Linked DNA regions of Homo sapiens: regions 1, 3 and 4 are each linked to region 2. Evidence: fine-mapped expression QTL. A gene starts in region 2. Each other region holds a variant in brackets. All regions are shown on one strand. Distances are from middle to middle.

Region 1 (5,153 bases), 25 kb after region 2:
GCAGTCACAGCTGAAAAGAGAACTAGTAAAGTGGGAGATGAGGAAGAAGAAAAAAATTCAGAATATATAACAAGGAGAAAAAATAATATTTAATACACAAACACAAAAATATAACAAATAGAGTGAGAAAGTCTACTTTATTTTTAGTTAGAGGCTCAAAAGTAGAAGAGAGAGAAAATAGAGGCAATAACTGAAGAGATAATACTTGAGAGTTTTCCAGACAAAATGAAACTCAAAAGTCAACAGATTCTAGAAGGCCTACCAATCAAAGAAGATAAATAAAGGGAACTCCATACCTAAAGACAGAGTAGTAAAACTGCAGACAATAAAAAAAAAAAAACAAAGACAAAAATAGTAAAGACAAAAAACAGAGGAAAAAAAGGAACATTACATTCAAATAAGCAGCAGCGAGACAATTGGCTGCCTTCTGAAAAGAAACAATCAAATGTAAATATCTTCAATATGCTGAAAGAAAATAACTGCCTCCAGAATTACATACTTAGTAAAAATAATCTCCAATAATTAAAGCAAATAAAGACACTTTCAGAGAAAAATAGCTGAAACAGTTTTTCACAAGCAGACCAACACAAAAGGAAATTCTAAATGATGTTTCTCAGGCAGAAGGACCATGATTACATATGGAAATTCAGAGACATAGCAGAAATAAAGAGTAAGATAGCAGCACATATGTTGATAAATCTAAATTAACATTAACTACATAAAATATATGTCTAGTCTTCTGGGGTTTAAAACTATTAATACTTAGACCTAATAAATGATAACAGCATATATATAGAATGAGACTAAATGGAATAAAAGTATTCCAACATCCATATATTGTGCAGGAAGAGGATAACGGTATCAATTATTACTATGTTTAATAAATTAAGGATTAGCTGGGCACGGTGGCTCACGCCTGTAATCCCAATACTTTGGGAGGCCAAGGTGGGCGGATCATGAGGTCAAGAGATGGAGACCATCCTGGCCAACACAGTGAAGCCCTGTCTCTACTAAAAAAATACAAAAATTAGCTGCACCTGTAGTCCCAGCTACTCGGGAGGCTGAGGCAGGAGAATCACTTGAACCCGAGAGGCAGAGGTTGCTGTGAGCCAAGATCGTGGCACAGTACTCCAGCCTGGAGACAGAGTGAGACTCTGTCTCAAAAAAAAAAAAAAAAAAAAAAAATTAAGGATTAAGATTGTAATTTTTAAAGTAACCACAAAAGAATAGAAGCAACTTAAATACAATTAAAGGAAATACAATAAGGAAGAAAGTGAAGCAAAGCATATAAAAAAGTAAAAAAATATAATGTTATAATAGTTAAAAATAACCAATCCAAAACAGACAAGAAAAGACATAGAAACAGAACAAGCAGAACAAACAGAAAAAAATAAAGATGGTAGATTTAAAATTAATATATATCAACAATTACATTAAATGTAAGTGGACCAAATTATCCAGTAAAACAAACCCCCGAAATACTGCTACACTGGATTTTTAAATTAACTATATGATATATTTAGGAGTTGTATCTAAACCAGAAAGTGAGAGAAAGGTTGGAAATGAAAGGCGAGAAAAGGAGCTTGACTGAAAACATTAACAAAAAGGTGGCTATATTAATAGACTCTAAAGCAAAAAACATGACATCAGAATATATCTCTTAGAGAATATAACCATTCCTTTCTAAATACTTTTTATGCTGACTGGTTATCATAGGTGACAATATATGTTAATCTGTCTGCACCATTTTGTTAAGACAAAAAGCTTTGGTATTTTCTTCTTCACTCTCCAACTATAAAGCTATAATAAACTAATAAATCTTTAAATATTCCTTATCTTTAAAATTTTTGTATAAGTGATTATTGTCATGTTATTTAGTGCAGTGGTTTATTTTCATCCTTTCTTCCTAATCTCCAAGTATTGCCAGGTACTTGAGCTTTTCCAATGCACACGTATCAAAGCCAGCATGAGTCCAGAACCTACTGCCTCTGAGAGCTGATCCATGGTAATTCTTTTCCCAACATCCTCTTGGTCTCTAGGACTCTAATGACCAAAGGAAAAGAGATTGCTGTTGCTTGGCTACTATGTTGGTAGATATGATTTAAGGCTACAGGTATGTCCAGATTTACACTGTGGAAAGGTCACTCAGGATACAGTGTGGCAAATGGGTTGGAATAGACAAGACTGGCTGTAGAGAGGCCAGTTTTTGATCTACTTATGTTAATGGAGGTGATGGATGGACCAGCGTAGTAACAAAGTGGGAATGAGTCTGTATAGAGTCCAATAAATTTAAATACTATAATTCTTTGGAAATGAATTGTCGTGTTGGGAGATTGGGAGTGTTTAAAGAAGATATCAAGATCTGATTTGAGGAGCAGGATGCATAGCAGTGAGGATAAGTGTCTAGGCAGGGGTAGAAGCAGGTTTTAGTGATCTGTTGAAACACCCACAGCAACACACTACTCTTTGGGAGATGCTGGCTTGGGGCTGATCATTGAGGTAGAGGGTAGTATATGATGCTGACAGGGAACTCACTGGTGTGTTGAGTTTTAGCATCTGTGACTCTGAGATGCATATGAGGCCTCTTGTAAATTTTGGGGTTGAGAGTAGAAAGTACAGGTTTGTATTTTAGAAAGAGATTTCGGAATAAATGTAGCTCTGGTTGACACAGACAATATGTGAAGGTTTGTTGGCCAGAACTAGTATGTGTCTTGGGTGTTGGGCAGAGAACAGATTGAGCCAAAGCTCTGCAAGGCCAGTGTGAAGGGTGATTTCCTTGTTGGGTTCAAGTTTATGACTCAGCCTGGACCTAGCTTGGCTTCTCAACTAGAGAAGAAGCATGATTCCATGTCATACACAACTCCTGTCTTTGAAAAAATCATAATGACTCCCAGACCCAACATGTGGGGCAAACTTTCCAGATTTTTCTCTTCAGTTTAATCTTTCCAGGGAAAATTGGGGAAAGAAATCTCTCTATTTGAACTTCATCAAAAGACCAATATGTTAATATTTCAGCCATTAATATGTCTTTAAACC[A/T]TGTTACTCCTTAAACAGCTATTACACGAAAGTGTATTAACTGAGGAAACTGGGTTCTCCCAAACAATGAAACACTGACTGCAAGCATTATTCATCTTTTTATATCATAAATTCCTTCAAATATTTTAGACATTTTAGAAAGCAAATAATAGTATTATAATGATTACAAGACTGATCATTACTCTTTTACAAAAAACGGCCACAAATAACTAACTCCATTAGCATTACCTTCTGTCCTTTCATTTCCTCTTTCTTTGTCTTCTTTTTTTGCCTATGATATTCTGGTATAGCATATTCCCTCTTTCTTCTAATTCTAATTCTGATTCTGCTTCTTATTTCTTCCCTAGATTAAAACTTTACTTACCTATGCTGCCAGTTAGTGCTTCCTTCCCAGAGCCACTAAAGCAACAGTTTGAGGTTGAGGTCCTAAATTGAAGATTTAGGATCAGAAACAAGGAACCTGGATGAATTTCTGATGTTTTTCTATAGGAGTCTGTTACGCAGTTGGAAGGAGCCTTTTTCGGAATTAAAGTTTGATCAAATAAGCTATTTTAATATTTATAGTTTTGTCTAGTAAAAGTATTCTGTAAAAACCTTGGTTTTGGATGTCTACTGTTAGCTTTTAGTCAATACTGCAAAAAGCTTCTTTTGGAACAATTTCTGTCTTTTTCAGTATTGTATTTCAATTGTTTCTCCAGGACCACACATAAGAGCCGGATTTGTGGTCCAGTGGTAGAATTCTCACCGCCTGCATAGGAGACCCTGGTTTAATTCCTGGCCAATGCAACAAGTTTTGTGCTTCACTTCTCTATATTCTTTATACTTCTGCCCTGCACAGGCTATCCCATGTTTAAGGGCCTTGGTTGTGGAGGCTTTTGATTTATGACAATGGTAACCCAAGTGATGGCCAATGCCTGAAGCATAAGATATTCAGGAAATGATCTAATGATCTAGGGACCTTGCAGTTAGAGTCAAGAGCCATTCCTGTAATCCCAGCACTTTGGCAGGTCAAGGCAGGTGGATCACCTGAGGTCAGGAGTTTGAGACTAGCCTGGCCAACATGGTGAAACCCAGTCTCTACTAAAAATACAAAAATTTGCCAGGCATGGTGGCACACACCTGGAGCTACTTAGCATAGTCTATCTTTGAAAGTGGCAAGTGTTTCTGGTAGTTTGATGCAGTTTTGAATATTGGTATGTAAAACTTTTGTTACTTTCATCTATTCTCCAGGTAGATCCCTAGAATCCCAAAGAACCATCACGTCCCTGATTCGCATGCTAGACCTTGGGCTGACCGCTGGGTCACGCCTCACTATGGAGCGAGGAACAAGAAGTGAAGTCCCCTGAAGGAGAGAAGCTGTGGGGAGGAGCAGTCACCTTGGTGGTGTCAGGTGTCGGCAGTCCAAGAAAAGGGGAGGCACGTGGGGAGGAATCCGTGCGGAGATGAGGGGAGCAGTGGAGACGTGGCTTTGGGCAGAGGTGGCGAGTGGACCCTCAGGCCTGTACCCTGGACACCATGAACAGAATTAGTTAACATTGTCACCCACCATGGCCTCCGTGTGTTCCGTGAGCCCATTTGCTTTCCCAAAGGGATTCCTAGCAATGTGTGTCAACAGGTGTTGGCCTGATTTTTTTTTAATTTTTATTTTTTGAGACTGGGCAGTGCAGCAGTGGCTTGGTCTTGACTCACTGCAACTTCCGCCTCTTGGGTTCAAGTCCTTACCTGGCAATACTGTGTTGAAGCCATTGAAACTGTCCCTATAAACTTTATAAAATTAATCAGGGAAGAAGGGAAGGGGAGAAACAAAAATAAACAAGCTTGCAGCAATTTTGCATTACTCTTGAGAGCAGCCTGCTCTTGGACCTGCTTCCTCACAGTTGTTTGGTGCTGTTTGTGCTAGAATCAGGCAGGCCCTAGATTATAGTTCTCCTGAACTGTTCTATAGATAACAACCTGAAGATTATGAAATGTTAAGTTTCCCGTTAGAGATATTCTTTCAGATCCTGTGTACCAGTGAAACTACTGATGTCAGCTGGTCTGAAGGACCCCACTGAGGAACTGACTCAGTATGCAGTTTCCAAATCCTAATGATTTCATCCCCCTTCCCCTGCCCAATC
Region 2 (5,147 bases):
GAGGTGCTGGAAATGTCTAAAATAGATCTGGATGCTGTTTACTTTGAAAAAATTTACTGTGGCATACATTTATGGCTTGTTGTACATAAGTTATATTTCAATGAAAATTCACATTAAAATGTAATATAAAAAAGATATGATTCTCAGTAAGTCACTGATGCTGAGTGTCCTAGAGTCTGTGTAGAGGTAAAGAAAATGGACTCTTCCCAGCCCTAGTCCTTTTGTTGTCACTTGAACCATGAAACACTTCTGCTTGAATTACCCAAAGTATCTTGTTGAAACAGCTCTGTCAGAGGTTGCAGTGAGCCAAGATCACACCACTGCATTCCAGCCTGGGCAACGGAGTGAGACTCTGTCTCAAAAAAAAAAAAAAAAAAAAAAAAAACGAAACAGCTCTGTCAGCTTCCCTAACCTCTCCATCCTAAGAACTTATTTACAGAGACCTAAGGGACACATGAGGAACATCAAGCCTTCCCTCAGACATTCTCAACATTTCCTTGGCTAAAACACATTTCCTCTAACAGCAACCATGTCTGCATAAAGGCAATTTTGCCTCCAGTGTGGATTGACTTTTGCATTATCATTTTTAACGAAGTTTAAACTCATCACTTCTGAATAACTAAATAATACATTTGGTTATTTTGTCTTGCATATTGAATGAAGCATTTTTCCCTGAAGAATATTGCAGTCTCCATCTCTTGATGAATAGAAACTCCTTACAGGTTTAAGTGGGTGGTGGGCTTTTCTGCTTCCATTTATTAAAATATGACAATAATTCCATGTCCAGAATATTATCTTACAGATACCCTATGAAATGTGCCCCCGGAATGTATGTATAAAGATAATTATTGCAGCAATGCTTGTAAAATCAAAAGAGTGGAAACATCTTATAAATTTGCTAATAGGCAGAATGGTTAAATTAATTCTGGTACAGCTGTGCAGCAGACATTTTAAAGTGGATTTCTATTAATATAAACAGAACTTTAAGGTATTTTAAGTGATAAAAGTAAGATATAGGACAATACTTAGAAAGTGTTCTACCACCCACAGCTTTAAAACTATATATATGTGTGTATATATATATATATATATAGTTTATATATAATAATGCTAATATATACATATATATGCATAATATGTATATATATATTAGCAGTTTTGTTTCTGTGGAAGGTGACTGCAGATCTAGGTTTTGGGTGGGAGGAAGATATTTCATTGTTCATTATTGCTCATTTGTTTGAATTATTATTATTTACTATGTACAGGCATACATTTGGAATAATGATACAATCTTAGGGCCTAAGTCTTACTCTAGACATCCTACTTAGAGCTGGCCTAGCTGAGGTACTGTTGGTACACAGTTTAAGGACCCTGCTGTGATGTTTTGAGTATACTGATTTAGTTTCACCTGGTAGGTACATAGTGCTGAGACCTGCACCCAGATAAATCGACACACACACATCTGGCATCCAGAAAGGAGAGAACGCAGAGGAAGACCTTGTGGTTTCCGGCCCTCCTGGTCCAAGTCATAATTACCTCTGTGGATTTCCAGCTGTATGGGGTCACTTCGCCCTGAGAGACCTCTCTGGCACCTGTATTCACCACTGTCATTGACACTGGCAGAGGTGATTCTGTAGCTGGGGGTCGAGGTCTGAGTGGCTGTGCCATTGAGAAACCACTGTGTAGAGCTGCTCCCAGGCAGATGGAGCACCTCACAGTGCAAGGTTACGGTTTCCTCTTGGAACACGCTGACCCATGGAGGCTGCAAAGTGATCACTGCCTTTGTGGTGTCTACTTGGAGATTACAAGAAGAAAAAGAAAAAGATCAAGTGGAGTAAAGGGGAGGGCTCTGAGCAACTGGTGAGGCTTTTGTGGATAGCACAAGGGAAAAATACATATTTAGATTTATTTGAAAAATAGGCAAGTGGAAACCTACAAAAGCCAGCCTTTAAGAGTGTCCTCCTGCTGCAGAGACCTCTGTTCATTGTTATTAAATCCTCATCTGGGTGTTGGGAATCTGGGGCTCCTGAGGATTAAATTACTGATGTAGGTTTTTCTGTTGGGAGCAATGAAGCAGGGTTTTAGACTTGGGCAAGCCAAGCGGAGCTGTTTTCCTTATCCTCTGAGCTATACTGTCTCTGAGAGTACATTGCAGGGCTTCAGCAGCTTGTACATTGGAAACGGAGGTTCAAACTCCTCTCTTTGAAGCCTTCAGTATTTGCCTGGCTCTTTCTGAGGAGAAAAAACCCACTCTGCTTTCTTGTAAAGGGGACTGGTTTAGGGGATGTTGGGAAACCCAGCAGACTACTTCAGTGTCAGCAGACTACTTTAGTGTTTGTGCAATTCTGGCCCTTTCCTGCTGTTATATATACATTCAGGCATTTCGCTCAGAGGAAAGAGCTCATTCAGAAAACTTTAGAAAGAAAGCTTACAAATCATAGTTTTTATGAAAATCATGCTCTGAATATGGGAGATTTTACATAATTTATAAATCTTTCTTCTTTCTCTGCTTTCCCTATATGCTCTTCTGCAGGTTAATAGGACCCATCCTTTGGAAGTAGGAAAGTGGCATAGAAGGAGAAGCTGAGTTAGAGATCACTCACCCACTTGCCCATCAACTGGAACTGCAAGAGATCAGAGAATAAAGATATCAGTTGGTCCAAGGAAAATAATGAGGAAGAGAGAATTGGGGAGACAGAATTAATGTAGACTCTGAGGGATCAACTCAGATCTCTTGAGTTTCTATTTCTCTTTCTCAAAATCCAGTACTAACAGAACTGAACAAGCTACAGGTGGTTATCAAGGAAACTTCACTGCGGTGCGTCCAGGCTTAATGCTACCTCAGGGTTGCCCTTCCCATCCTTTTCATAAAATAAGCTCTAATAAACCATGGAAGCACAGATACAAGTTGCTTCATACTCATGAGTTCTACCCAGAGTTACCACAGGAAGACAAAACTCTTGACTCACAACAGCCACAGCCTGTACCCTTCTAACTGTCCCCTCTGAGTCCAACTTACCCCAAAGGAGCAGAGTTGTCAAGAACCACATGTTGTCTCCAAGCTGGTGGGAGCAGTGAAATCTGTAACATGCAAGATATTGAAGAGGTTCTGCTGGTGGCTCCAGAGCCAAATTAGAAAAGAGGAAGGAAATTGCCTTTTCTGACCATTTTCATCATGTTGCTTTTCTGGGAAATACATCTCAAATTCTTGAAACATGCTTTTCCCATGCTCATACCTGTTAGCCCATCTCTCCCAGTTTGAATCTCTGATTTTCAGGTTATGAACTCTCAGAATCCAGGGAAAAGGCTAAAGTTGTATTGACATTCTATTCTATTTTTACCCTCTACCGTTTCTGTTTCTTACGGTTAGAATATGGCAAAACCTCACTCTTTATAATTGGTTCAATGCCTGGCTAATGCCTCCAAACAATCATTTGAATCCAGAAGTTTCTATATCAGCCTCTATGAGGCCATGGGAAAAGTTACTCATCTACAAGAGCTGCCCTAATACAAACCAGCCTCTGCTCCTCTAGGGGACACAGACAGGATCAATCTCCCATTTTGGTTAAAAAAGAAAACAAACTCTCTTCCTGAAAGACATCATGAATTTGGAGTGTTTATTTTGGCTAAATCCAAGGTAATTAATTGTTTAATGTGGATGCTATGGAGAAGAAAAATAACTCATGCACATGGATAGCAATATCTTCAAGAAAAGAGTTTCAGAGTACAAGTGGGGAGCTCTGTGCCACCAAACTGAGGTGGCTCCTGAGACAGAGTTGTAACCCCATAAAAAGATTTTTAGGTATTGTGGTAAGAGAGAAAGAGAGCTAAATGGAAACTAAATGAGAGCTAAAAAAAGAGAGCTAAAGAGAGCTAAATGAATTCAATGAGTGCAGAGAGACTTTGGCAATCTTACTAGCAGAGAATGAAAAATGATGACAAATCATGCTGTAAGTTGGTGTACTGGCCCCAGTTTCTCACCGCTCCCTGAATCTACACTCTCTCCACAGCCTCATGAGGGTATGTCTCTGACTCTTGACTGTGGCTCATCATGAGACTTTCATTGGCCAGCGAAATGTGAATGGAAATGACATGGTGCTAATTTCAAACTTAGCACTTAGGAAGCTTCACACATTATCTCTCACCCTCTTGTTCTCCTGTGATTGCTGAGACAAGAACATTTTTTAGCTAGTCAGCCACAGTGCGAAACAGAGCTGTCCTAGACATTGTGGCTTGAGGCAGAGCTGCCTCACCTGCCCTGCAAACTTGTAAGTGAGAACTAAATGCTTACCTTTATATGCTACTGAGATTTGAGGATTGCTATACGAGCAAGAGCTGACTGACACAAATGAAAAGCAAGGAAGAAAGGCCGGGAAGAACTCAGGGTGTTCTGAAGAGACGAGAGAAGCCTCAGCTTGTTAAAATTTATATTCAAAGCCTATATCTGTAACTATTTTACTATTTTGTCTCCAAAGTTTTCTACTGTATGCATGTACCATAATTTATTTCACCAACTTCTCTTCATGAACATGTAGGTTATTTCTAATTTTTTACTGTGTGACCAGTAAAAAAGACTGCTTACTACCAAAATAGTCTTGTGACTACCTTTAAACATTTGACTTATTTTTTCCTTAGGACACATTCCTAGAATCAGTAGTGCTTACTCAAAGGAAATGCGCATTTTTTCCTTTGGATAAGATGCTATCAGATTGTCTATGATCATTATCCTCATCACTGCATAAATTTTAGAGTGCTTATTACATGCCAGACAAATATGCTTGATACATGTTTTCTTATTTAAGCCTCACAATAATCCATGAGTAGACACTAGTATCTCCATTTTACAAATGATAAACCTAGTGAAAGAGGAAATCAGTAATTTGTCCAAGGTTGTAAAAAATAGAAGCAGGATTCAAAATCAGACAGTTTGATTTCCTTTACGTACTCACTGATGGAGTATAACAGTGCCCACCCCATGCCTTGCGATTCCTGCTTTGTAGTAAAATAGCTACTTCTTTGAAAAATAAGTGAAATCATTTCATTGATCAGGATAACATGAGGGAATTAGGATTGTTGTGTAAGAGGAATGTAAGATCTATAGCCTGGAAGGATAAAATACTTTCTTTCTAATAAGTATTGTTGTTTCC
Region 3 (5,153 bases), 810 kb after region 2:
AATAGATAACAAAACCATCCAGAAGATAATAAAAAAATTAATCCAAATAATTTTTGAACTCACTACTACTCTAACTGAACACTGTCAGTGCAAAATATCCTAAGGATAAAAAGAATTACAAAAAAATCTTAAACATTACTTAATACATTTATTGTTGATGGTGATATTTATGTAACAATTCCAAAAATACTTTTGCATATTATAGTATTCTGCAACTGTGTAAATATTTTGAAATATATTGATGCTATAAGTAACCAGGGCTCTCAAGGAGATACAAATATGAAATGAGGGAAAAAAGAACCTATATTGTTAAATTGGAATTAAGGAAATCAGTATCAAATCTTCACATATATACAAATACACACATACATACTTAAAAATATTCATTGCTAGTTCTGTTCTCTTAAAAGGGCCTAGAAGCGGCTGGGCGCAGTGGCTCACATCTGTAATCTCAGTACTTTGGGAGGCCGAGGAGGGCGGATCACGAGGTCAGGAGATTGAGACCATCCTGGCTAACACGGTGAAACCCCGTCTCTACTAAAAATACAAAAAAATTAGCTGGGTGTGGTGGCTGGCGCCTGTAGTCCCAGCTACTCGAGAGGTGAGCAGAGAGATCGTGCCACTGCACTCCCACCTGGGTGACAGAGCGAGACTCCGTCTCAAAAAAAAAAAAGGTCCTAGAAGCAAAAGGCATTCATGTAGCAATGAACACATCTTGTGTCCAGATCATAGTTTCTGAATGCCATTACCCACCAAAAGGAACCAGGGAGCTCTTTAGGATAATGGCTGATTCTGGGACTGAGGCAGGTAAAGCAAAAGGTAATCATAGAACATCTTATTGTGCCAGAAACTATCAAACTATGCTAACATTATATATATATATAACATTAGTAGGTGATGTCAAGTTACAGTGAGTGGCCCCAGACTTGAAACGATACCCAGGAAAAGGTGTCAGCTCATGGCCCTGCTGTGCAGGATTGGAACAATTACCTCCTGCATTTCTGAATCCCTGCAAAGCTATCTGAAAAGGAGAGTAAGGATAGAATTTCTCTGGGCCGAATTGTGAACCCAGAGCAATCAGCTCAACTCAACATAAGGTAAGGACAGTTCTTCAGCCTTTCAGAGGAATTCCAAACTTATTTGTTCTATTAAGGTAGGAAGAGAAAAGAGTCTTGGCCAAACCTATAATACAGAGATTACTAGAAGAAAAAACAAGAGAAAAACAAAGTCCCTTAATGAAATGAAATTTGATACTTACCTAATGTGGATCTGGGTATGCTGACATCCTCTTTGGCAGTCAATGAAGTGCTATCATCTCTGGAAGGTATCTGCATTGAACCCTAAAAAATTGCAAAAGTCAGGGGACTTAGGAAGATGCAGGAACTATGATCACAATGACAGTACTGAGAATATTCTCAGAATTTGGTATTAAAATTATCAAACTTACACCTCAAATGTAAAAAGGAAATGGAATCAGCATGAATTATGTAAGTCTATAGTTCTTACTTGATCAGTCTGTTTTCCAAGACGGCCAGTGGGGGTAACTTCAGCTTGTTGGTTAGAGATGGGTGCTTGGGACATCAGGGAGTCTCTCCCTCCTAAATATTGGCGCAGGGCCTGTAATTCTGAATTTCTTTCCATTAAGGCTTGCACCAACTTCTCTGCAGCAGCCTAGTAAGAGGAAATCACAAATAACATTATAAAGATATTCTAGTAAAACAAATTTTTTGTTCTGGTATTATTTCTTCAAAGTCAACCATTTGTAAAAAACAAACAACAATGACAACAACAAAAAACAGTGGGTCCTTAGGAAATAGTTTCCTTGCTTTCAGTTTACAGGGAAAAACAGAGTTAAGTGAATGGAAAGAAAGTCTCATAGGCAGAATATTGGGAAAAAAAACTGAATTTAACACATCTGTAACAGATAAGAGAATCTGAAATAGGTTCTGCTACAACTATCAGGCTAAGGTGTTAAGATTCTGGTTTGAATTAGTATAACAAATGTCTTTATTCTCGGATAGTTGCTTCTTAGGGGTGGATTCCTTTTCACTCAAACATTTGTGTGGTTTGCTCCCTTCAGGTCTTTGCCAAATGTCACCTTATCAGGTTGGTCTTTCCTGCGTATCCTATCCAAAACAGCAATCTTGCTGGCCAAAGTATAAGATGAATATGTTTTGGGGATCCAATGATAGCATGGTGACTTTAGTTAATAATACTGTATTATTTACTTGAAATTTGCTAAGAGAGTAGATCTTAAGTGGTTTCACCATACACGCATAAAATGTGTAGTGACGGATGTGTTAATTTGTGGCAATCACTTCAAAATGTATATGTATATCAACACATCATGCTGTACACCTTGAGTATATACAATATTTGTCAATTATACTTTA[A/G]TAAAGCTGGGAAAAAATTTTTTTTAAAACCCAGCAATCTCTTCTCTATCTCCAACACTTCTTACTGTGCTTAATTTTTTTTCGATGCACTTACCATTATCTAATAGATCTCTCTCTCTGCTTCCCCTACATGGAATGTAAGTTTCCTAAAGGCAATTTGGTGCTGAATCTCAAGCACCCAGTACGGTGTCTGGCACATAATAGGCACACACTACATATTTACTGAATGAATCAATTACGCACATAAACATGTTTATCAGACCACATGATTAGGATAATCTCAACCTCAAAATCACCCAACTCAGCTTGTTTCATTTCAAATCCCAGTTTTCTAAGACAGATGATGACACACTAAGGGAAAGATCTAGAACATTTTTAACTATTAATGCACAGGAAGTCTGCATTTAAACAGAAAATCTGGAAATAATAAATTGATATTAAAATTACTGAGGGTCTAAGATGATGAATCATAACACCAACTGTCTCTGAGGAAAAGTACTATTGTTTTAGGGCAGAAGCTGAGCTCTTGTCACAATTTCTAGGGGAAATATGAAAAAACCTTCCACTTTTCAGTAAGTAAAATTTGGGCTCTTTGGAGATTTGAATTTAACTATTTTAGACGTATCAGAATATTATTAAAGTACCTTAATAAAAATATCTGTGAAAACTGTGGGGAAAAAACATAATAAATAATATACAAGATATATACTGTGCTCTATCTGCCTTGGCACTCCTTTTCTCGTAGTATTTAAGAGTTTTTAGCAGTGCTCCTCCAATGCAGTCCCCGAACCTGCAGCATCACTATCACCTGGAAACTTGTTAGAAATGCAAATTCTTAAGTCCCACCTATACCTCGTAATTTCTTTCTCTGGAGTTGAGCTCCACAATCTACATCTTTAAAAAGCTATTCAGGTGATTTCTTTTGCACGTAAATTTAGAGAAGCAGATCTAGAAGAATACAACCATTAATCTTCTTGAGTTGAAAAATCTCCTGTAATTTCCATCATCTCCATTATTCTATTACCAGCAGTGCATAATTTTTTTTCTGAGGTATAATAAAGACCAATTGTCCCAAATCACAAAGAAGTTAAAAAGAAAACTCAAAGATCCTAGCCTCTTGCCAAAGATTTAAATAATTTAGAATAATTTTGTTAGGTCTATTTTAGAAACAATTTCTGAAGCACACAGCAGGACCTTTCTAGAAAGATGTGTATTTACTTCAGTGGGCCTAACAATTAGAATAGTGGAGTATAATCCTTTCACAACATAAGAAAACATAAGAAAATATTATGGGGTCAAATAACATAGGCAAAAAAGAGTCTATCTTCCTCTAAAAACTGACTACGGGGATTCTGAGCTACTGGTATCTGAAATGCAGCACAAGTCAACTAAGAGTTTTTAGCCTTGAGGAGAAAACACATAGAAATGAGGAAAAATTAACACTTTACTATGGGCAGGGCATGGTGGCTCACGCCTGTAATCCCAGCACTTTGGGAGGCTGAGATGGGTGGATCACTTGAGGCCAGGAATCGTAAGCCAGCCTGGCCAACATGGTGAAACCCCATCTCTACTAAAAATACAAAACTTAGCGGGCATGGTGGTGCATGCCTGTAATCCCAGCTACTTGGGAGGCTGAAGCAGAAGAATTGCTTGAACCCAGGAGGCAGAGGTTGCAGTGAGCCAAGATTGCGCCATCGCACTCCAGCTGGGTGACAGAGGGAGATGCCATCTCAAAAAAAAAAAAAAAAAAGAATTTACTTCTTAAATATTGTGAAATTAATATACCCTGTACTATTATGAGATTGTTTATTCTCACCATGACCTCTGAAAAATGCGATCTTTTTTCCCTCTTAACTCAGATTTTACAAAAACTAAGAGTAAACATGTTGAGTGTAAGTTTTCCCATACCTTGACTGGAAATGCAAAATATCACTCAAGTCTTAACAATTTAGAATCAAAATCGAAACACTCACAACCCCTACTCCTTTCTCTCAAAATTATCAGATTATTAAGGAAAAGAAAATGTATGTAATGAAGTTAATGGATACATGTATTGTTTAGGCACCCTTCCAAATGCAAGGTTTTCAAGAAATGTGTCATACTTTGATGATTAATGTAAAACTGTGGTCTAAGGCCAGGCGCAGCAGCTCACACGTATAGTCCCAGCACTTTGGGAAGCCAAGGCAGGATGATTGCTTGAGCCCAGGAGTTTGAGACCAGCCTGTGCAACACAGCGAAACCCCCATCTCTAAATAAGTAAGTAAATAAATAAAACTGTGGTTTAGGTAATAAATAGAAGGAAAGAAACTAACAGAGTTGACGGTAAAATATATAAATATACACACATCTATAGTCTGCAAATGCTTCCTATTTGCAGACTATAAATGCACTACATGACACTTGTCTGATCTGTGCATTAATCCTTACTTGGCTTTCCTGCTCCCTGGTGCTCACAGACTGAAGCAGGCCTTGAATCTCCATTTCATGTTCCAGCACTTGTTTATTTCGATCACTTAGAAGGTCCTGCAGCATCCTTTCCTTTCGCTGTAGACGCTGGCACAGCTCCTCTGCTATCTCACTCTGCCCTGGTCCAAGTTTGCAGAGCAGTGTTGCACTAAGATCCTAATGCAGAAAGGACACTGTAAGCTTCTGGAGGAAAGAAATGCCTCTGCTAAATATCAAAGGGCTTATAAGAATCTATCATAGAAGAAGGAGGTGTGAGATTCTTGAGAATAAGTATCATGTTTTACTCATTTTTGT
Region 4 (5,153 bases), 51 kb after region 2:
GTTTTGATGTTTTCAAGGAGAGGTATACTTAGGTTATTTTGCTGTGGTTAGAAATTGGTTGACAACATAAGCAAAAGGGTAAAAAAGCTGGCTATTGAGGGGGTGGCCTCCCCTGTTATAGAGACCTCCAGGGTGAAATACGCAGCCTTGCATTGAGTGTGGCTATCAGAAGTCAGGGCTTCCTTGGGTTCTGTAGCTACTTCCACATTCTAATTCTGTGATTGTGACTCAAGAGCTGGCACCCTGAGTCTTCCCCATAGCACTATTGTTGATGTCCCAGTGACATGGGATTTGAGCTCTGGCATCTGAAAATGTGTTCCTGCCTTCATGACTCTCAAAACTTGTGGAAGCAAAATGCTTCCTGACCTCTGAAGGGACATTCCCTGGGAACTTCATAAGAACTTTATCTCAGCTATAAGAAACAAAAATACTCATCCCTTAGCTTAGTTTAAACCCCATTTGTTTTCATTCATTTATTGCCTGTTTTTTCTTCTAAACACCTGTGGGACCTCCCCTTCCTTCTCATAACAGCACCCACCCCGACCCCACCCCAGCACTTGCTGCATCTTTCTTTTACCCAGTGGATTGTTGGGTCCTCATGGCTGAGGAAGTTGTAGGCTTCACTCTACTTCCTGGTAGGCTCTGCTCTTGAGATTCTATCGTCCTACAGGATCTCCACTAATAATCTAACCTCTGTAAGCCATAATTTTGTTTCAATTGCTTTAGGTAGTTTTGGAGAAAAGCCTGGCCATTGTGAAGACATAGACATCTTTCTTCTCTGTCCTTCCTTTCAAAGACGGCTGTAAGAGAGCTCTTCATGAGAAAATGTCCCAGCAGAAGGCTGGGATGCATCAGCCCTCAGAGAAGAAGGGACCTGCTGAGAAGGGAGTGAATGAGCAGAAGCCTCGGGTTGAGGAAGAATTCTCTGTATCCTGCAGTGGGCAAGAGACTTCCCACTATCAGCATTAAGTCATTGCTCGTCAGAGTAGCTTTCAGGGCCTGCAGCCAGCCTCCATACCTTAATTGTAGGGCTTTCTCTTAATACCTTCCTGGAAATTTCTTCAGAGAAAAATCTATAAAAGTTTTATTAGTAATGACTTTATATTATTCAGAGAAATTTGGTTTTATTCTAACTAACATTGCATGTATTCACCAAATATATGGCCTTTGTGGTTACCTGAGCTGGAAATCTTCCAGTCATGTGAGTGGTCTCTCTTCTGGATCCCCAGGAGCATGTAGGAATCTCCTGTTTCTTCATATGTTACTCTGGTGAATGCTGAACTGTCCCAGTTCCCGAGGAGGTAGATTTATACAGAGGCCCCTCCATTCTACTCCATCCTCTATGGAAACTCAGGTCCCTGGCTTCTGGAATGGCAGTTTTGATAAGCTGAATTTTAAAAATAAGCTTGCAGAATTGTCAAATAGTGGCTTGTTGGCTAAATTTGTCAGTTTGTTTTTAATGGCCATTTTCCTATAGCTTTTTGGAAGCATTTAAATAATATGGGGTTAATCCATTACGCATTTGCCTGTGAGCGCCAGTTACTGAAATACTAAGTTACTGAAATCAGTAATTTGCCTAAGTGGTTGGTGCACAGCTTTGGAAGTGATTCAAATCCTGCTTCATGCTCCATTAGGTCACTGCCCAATATATTCCACTTAAATTTCACTGACCCAGAGAATAATGTTAGGGCTAAAATAACGCTAGGCCAGGCGCAGTGGCTCACGCCTGTAATCTCAGCACTTTGGGAGGCTGAGGTGGGCAGATCACTTGAGGTCAGGAATTGGAGACAGCCTGGCCAACATGGTGAAACCCCGTCTCTACTAAAAATACAAAAATTAGCTGGGCATGGTGGTGGGCACCTGTAATCCCAGCTACTTGGGAGGCTGAGGCAGGAGAATTGCTTGAACCTGGGAGGTGGAGATTGCAGTGAGCCAAGATAGCGCCACTGCACTTCAGCCTGGATGACAGAGCAAGATTCCATCTCAGACAAAACAAAACAAAACAAAACAAAACAAAACA[AAACAAAACAC/C]CCAAAAAACTCTAGAGTCAGTTAGTCTCATTACCTCATTTTAGAACTGAGAACACTTAGGCCCTAAGAGATAGTCATTTGATCAAAGTTGCATAATAGCCTCTGGCAGAGATAACATTAGAATCCTGTGCTCTCGATTCACAAAGGCTACACTACACCCACTTCATCAAATATATTTTTAAAAATTATACTTCTGTGATCATTCTTTTTTTTAATGGACTTTTTAAGAGCAGCTTTAAGTTCACAGCAAAATTGAGTGGAAAGTAACAGAGAGTTCCCATATGCCCCCTACCCCTGCACGGACACAGCCTCCCTCACTATCAACATCTTGCCCCCGAGTGATAACATTTGGTACAACTGATGAACCTACATTGACTCATCATCACCCAAAGTCCACAGTTTACAGTGGGGTTCATTCTTGGTGGTGTATATTCTATAGATTTTGACACAAGTATAAATGTATAATGGCATGCATCCACCATTGTAATAAAGAATGACTATTCCCTGCCCTAAAAATTCTCTGTGCTCTGCCTATTCATTCTCCTTTCCCTCCTAACACCTGGCAACCACTGATCTTTTTACTGTCTCCACTGTTTTACCTATCCATAGTGTCATATAGTCAGAGTCATACAGTATGTAGCTTTTTTAGGTTGGCTTCTTTCACTTACACACTTAAGGTTCTTTCATGTCTTTTCATGGCTTCATAACTCATTTCTTTTTAGTACCAAATAATATTCCATTGACTGCATGTACCAAAATTTATCCATTCACCTACTGAAGGACATCTTGGTTGCTTCCAAGTTTTTGCAGTTATGAATAGAGCTGCTATAAACATCATGTGCAGGTTTTTGTGTGAACTTAAGTTTTCAGCTCGCTTGGGAAAATACTGAGGAGCAGATGGTTAGGTCATTTGGTAAGAGTATGTTTAGTTTCACAAGAAAATGCCAAACTGTCTTCCAAAGTGGCTGTACTATTTTGCATTCCCACCGGCAAGGAATGAGAATATCTGTTGTTCCACATCCTTACCAGCATTTGGTGTTATCAGTGTTCTGGATTTTGCCATTCTAATAGGTGTAGAGTGGTATCTTGTTGTTTTAATTTGCAATTCCCTAATGACATATGATGTTGAGCATCTTTTCATATTCTTATTTGCCATCATCTTTGGTGAGGTGTCTGTTCAGGGTTTTTTGCCCATTTTTTATTGTGTGGTTCATTTTCTTATTGTTGAGTTTAAGAGTTCTTTGTGTATTTGGCTTAATAGTCCTTTACCAGATATGTCTTTTGCAAATATTTTCACCCAGTGTGTTGTCTTCTCATTCTCTTGATGTGCCTTTTGCAGAGCAGAAGTTTTTAATTTTAATGAAGTCCAGATTATCAATTATTTCTTTTGTGGATCATGCCTTTTGTGTTATATCTGAAAAGTTATCATATAGCTGGGCTCGGTGGCTCACACCTGCAATCCCAGCACTTTGGAAGGCTGAGGCAAGAGGATCACTTGAGCCCAAGAGTTTGGCTGCAGTGAGCCATAATCACACCATGATCATGCCCAAGGAATGCTTCAGTGAGCCATGATCATGCCCTCCAACAAATAAATAAAATAATTAATTTATTTAGAGACTCTGTCTCTAAATTAAAATTGGTATTGCATTGAATCTTTAGATCAATAAATAAAATAAATAAAAAGTCATCACCAATCCCAAGGTCATCTAGATTTTCAGCTGTTGTTATCTTTTAGGGTTTTTTTTTTTAATCATTTTATGTTTTACATTTAGGCCTATGATCCATTTTGTGTAAGTTTTCATGAAGAATGTGAAGTCTGTGTCTAGATTCACTTTTTTTGCATGTGGATGTCCCGCTGTTCCAGCACCATTTTTTGAAAATACTATCTTTTCTCCATTGTATTGCCCTTGTCCCTTTGTCAAAGATCAATCTGCTATATTTTGGAGTCTTCTGGAATCTCTATTCTGTTCCGCTGACTTATTTGTCTATTCTTTCACAAATCTTATACTGTCCTGATTACTGTAGCTTTACAGTAAGTCTTGAAGTCAGGTCATATCAGCCCTCCGTTCCTTTTCAATATTGTGTTGGCCATTCTGGGTCTTTTGCCTCTCTATGTACACCTTAGCATCTATTAGTTGATATTCACAAAATTTATTTGCTGAGATTTTGATTGGTATTGCATTGAATCTTTAGATCAAGTTGGGAAGAACTGACATCTTGACAATATTTAGTCTTCCTGTCCATGAACACAGAATATCTCTCTGTGTATTTAGTGCTTCTTTGATCTCTCTCAACAGAGTTTTGCAGTTTTCCTCATACAGATCTTGTACATGTTTTGTTAGATTTTACCTTGACATAATCACTTACTAGTTCCAGGAGATTTTTGTTGTCAATTCTTTCAGATTTTCTTTTCTTTTCTTTTTGTTTTTGAGATGGAGTCTCACTGTGTCGCCCAGGTTGGAGTGTAGTGGCTCAATCTCGGCTCACTGCAAGCTTCGCCTCCTGGGTTCAAGCCATTCTCCTGCCTCAGCCTCCTGAGTAGCCTGGCTACTATTTTGTTTTTTTAGTAGAGACGGGGTTTCGCTGTGTTAGCCAGGATGGTCTCGATCTCCTGACCTCATGATCCGCCCACCTCGACCTCCCTAAGTGCTGGAGTTACGGGCATGAGCCACCGCGCCCGGCCTTTTTTTTTTTTTTTTTTTGAGTCAGTGTCTCACTTTGTCACTCAGGGTGGAGTGCAGAGTGGCACGATGTCATCTCACTGCAACCTTTGCTTCCCGGATTCAAGCAATTCTCCTTCCTCAGCCTCCCAAGTAGCTGGATTACAAGCGCATGCCACCACGCCCGGCTAATTTTTGTATTTTTTGTAAAGACGGGGTTTCACCATGTTGGAGATTTTCTATAATACAATAACTGCATCACGTGTGAACAAAGACAGTTTTAGTTCATCTTTTCTAATCTGTATACCATTTATTTCCTTTGCTTATCTTACTGCATTAGCTAGGATTTCCAGTATGATGGTGAAAAGAAGTGGTAAGTGGGGAAATTCTTGCCTTATTGTTGATGTTAGTGAGAAAGCTTCTAGTTTCTAGTATGACATTAGTGTAGAGTTTTTATAGATGT

Evidence for each region. PIP is the estimated chance that this variant, and not a neighbour inherited with it, causes the effect.
Region 1: its variant is the best candidate, but not a certain one, in a credible set for the expression of FCGR1A in blood mononuclear cells (TOPMed, PIP 0.56).
Region 3: its variant is the best candidate, but not a certain one, in a credible set for the expression of FCGR1A in whole blood (INTERVAL, PIP 0.86).
Region 4: its variant is the best candidate, but not a certain one, in a credible set for the expression of FCGR1A in whole blood (INTERVAL, PIP 0.90).

Annotation. Positions count from the first base shown.
Region 1 is chr1:149,755,390-149,760,542 of GRCh38, reverse strand. The region is part of intron 2 of LOC105371406 (a long non-coding RNA gene); the gene reads right to left. It also overlaps the pseudogene TRR-CCT8-1. Among named protein-coding and RNA genes, the nearest start is that of TRN-GTT8-1, 18 kb to the right of the region's middle. The variant A/T (reference allele first, on the strand shown) is at 3,037.
Region 2 is chr1:149,780,647-149,785,793 of GRCh38, reverse strand. FCGR1A (Fc gamma receptor Ia) reads right to left here and starts at 3,100. Exons shown (of 6, transcript NM_000566.4): 1 at 3,020-3,100; 2 at 2,604-2,624; 3 at 1,537-1,791. The coding sequence starts at 3,050. It overlaps LOC124904411, which reads left to right. Exons shown (of 2, transcript XM_047438183.1): 2 at 2,534-2,904. It also overlaps a transcript of H2BC18 not described here.
Region 3 is chr1:148,968,698-148,973,850 of GRCh38, reverse strand. PDE4DIP (phosphodiesterase 4D interacting protein) reads right to left here. Exons shown (of 47, transcript NM_001395426.1): 17 at 4,821-5,015; 18 at 1,507-1,671; 19 at 1,259-1,340. Among named protein-coding and RNA genes, the nearest start is that of PDE4DIP, 130 kb to the right of the region's middle. The variant A/G (reference allele first, on the strand shown) is at 2,394.
Region 4 is chr1:149,729,956-149,735,108 of GRCh38, reverse strand. LOC105371406 (a long non-coding RNA gene) reads right to left here and starts at 1,494. Exons shown (of 4, transcript XR_007066595.1): 1 at 578-1,494. It also overlaps the pseudogene PDE4DIPP7. The variant AAACAAAACAC/C (reference allele first, on the strand shown) is at 2,021.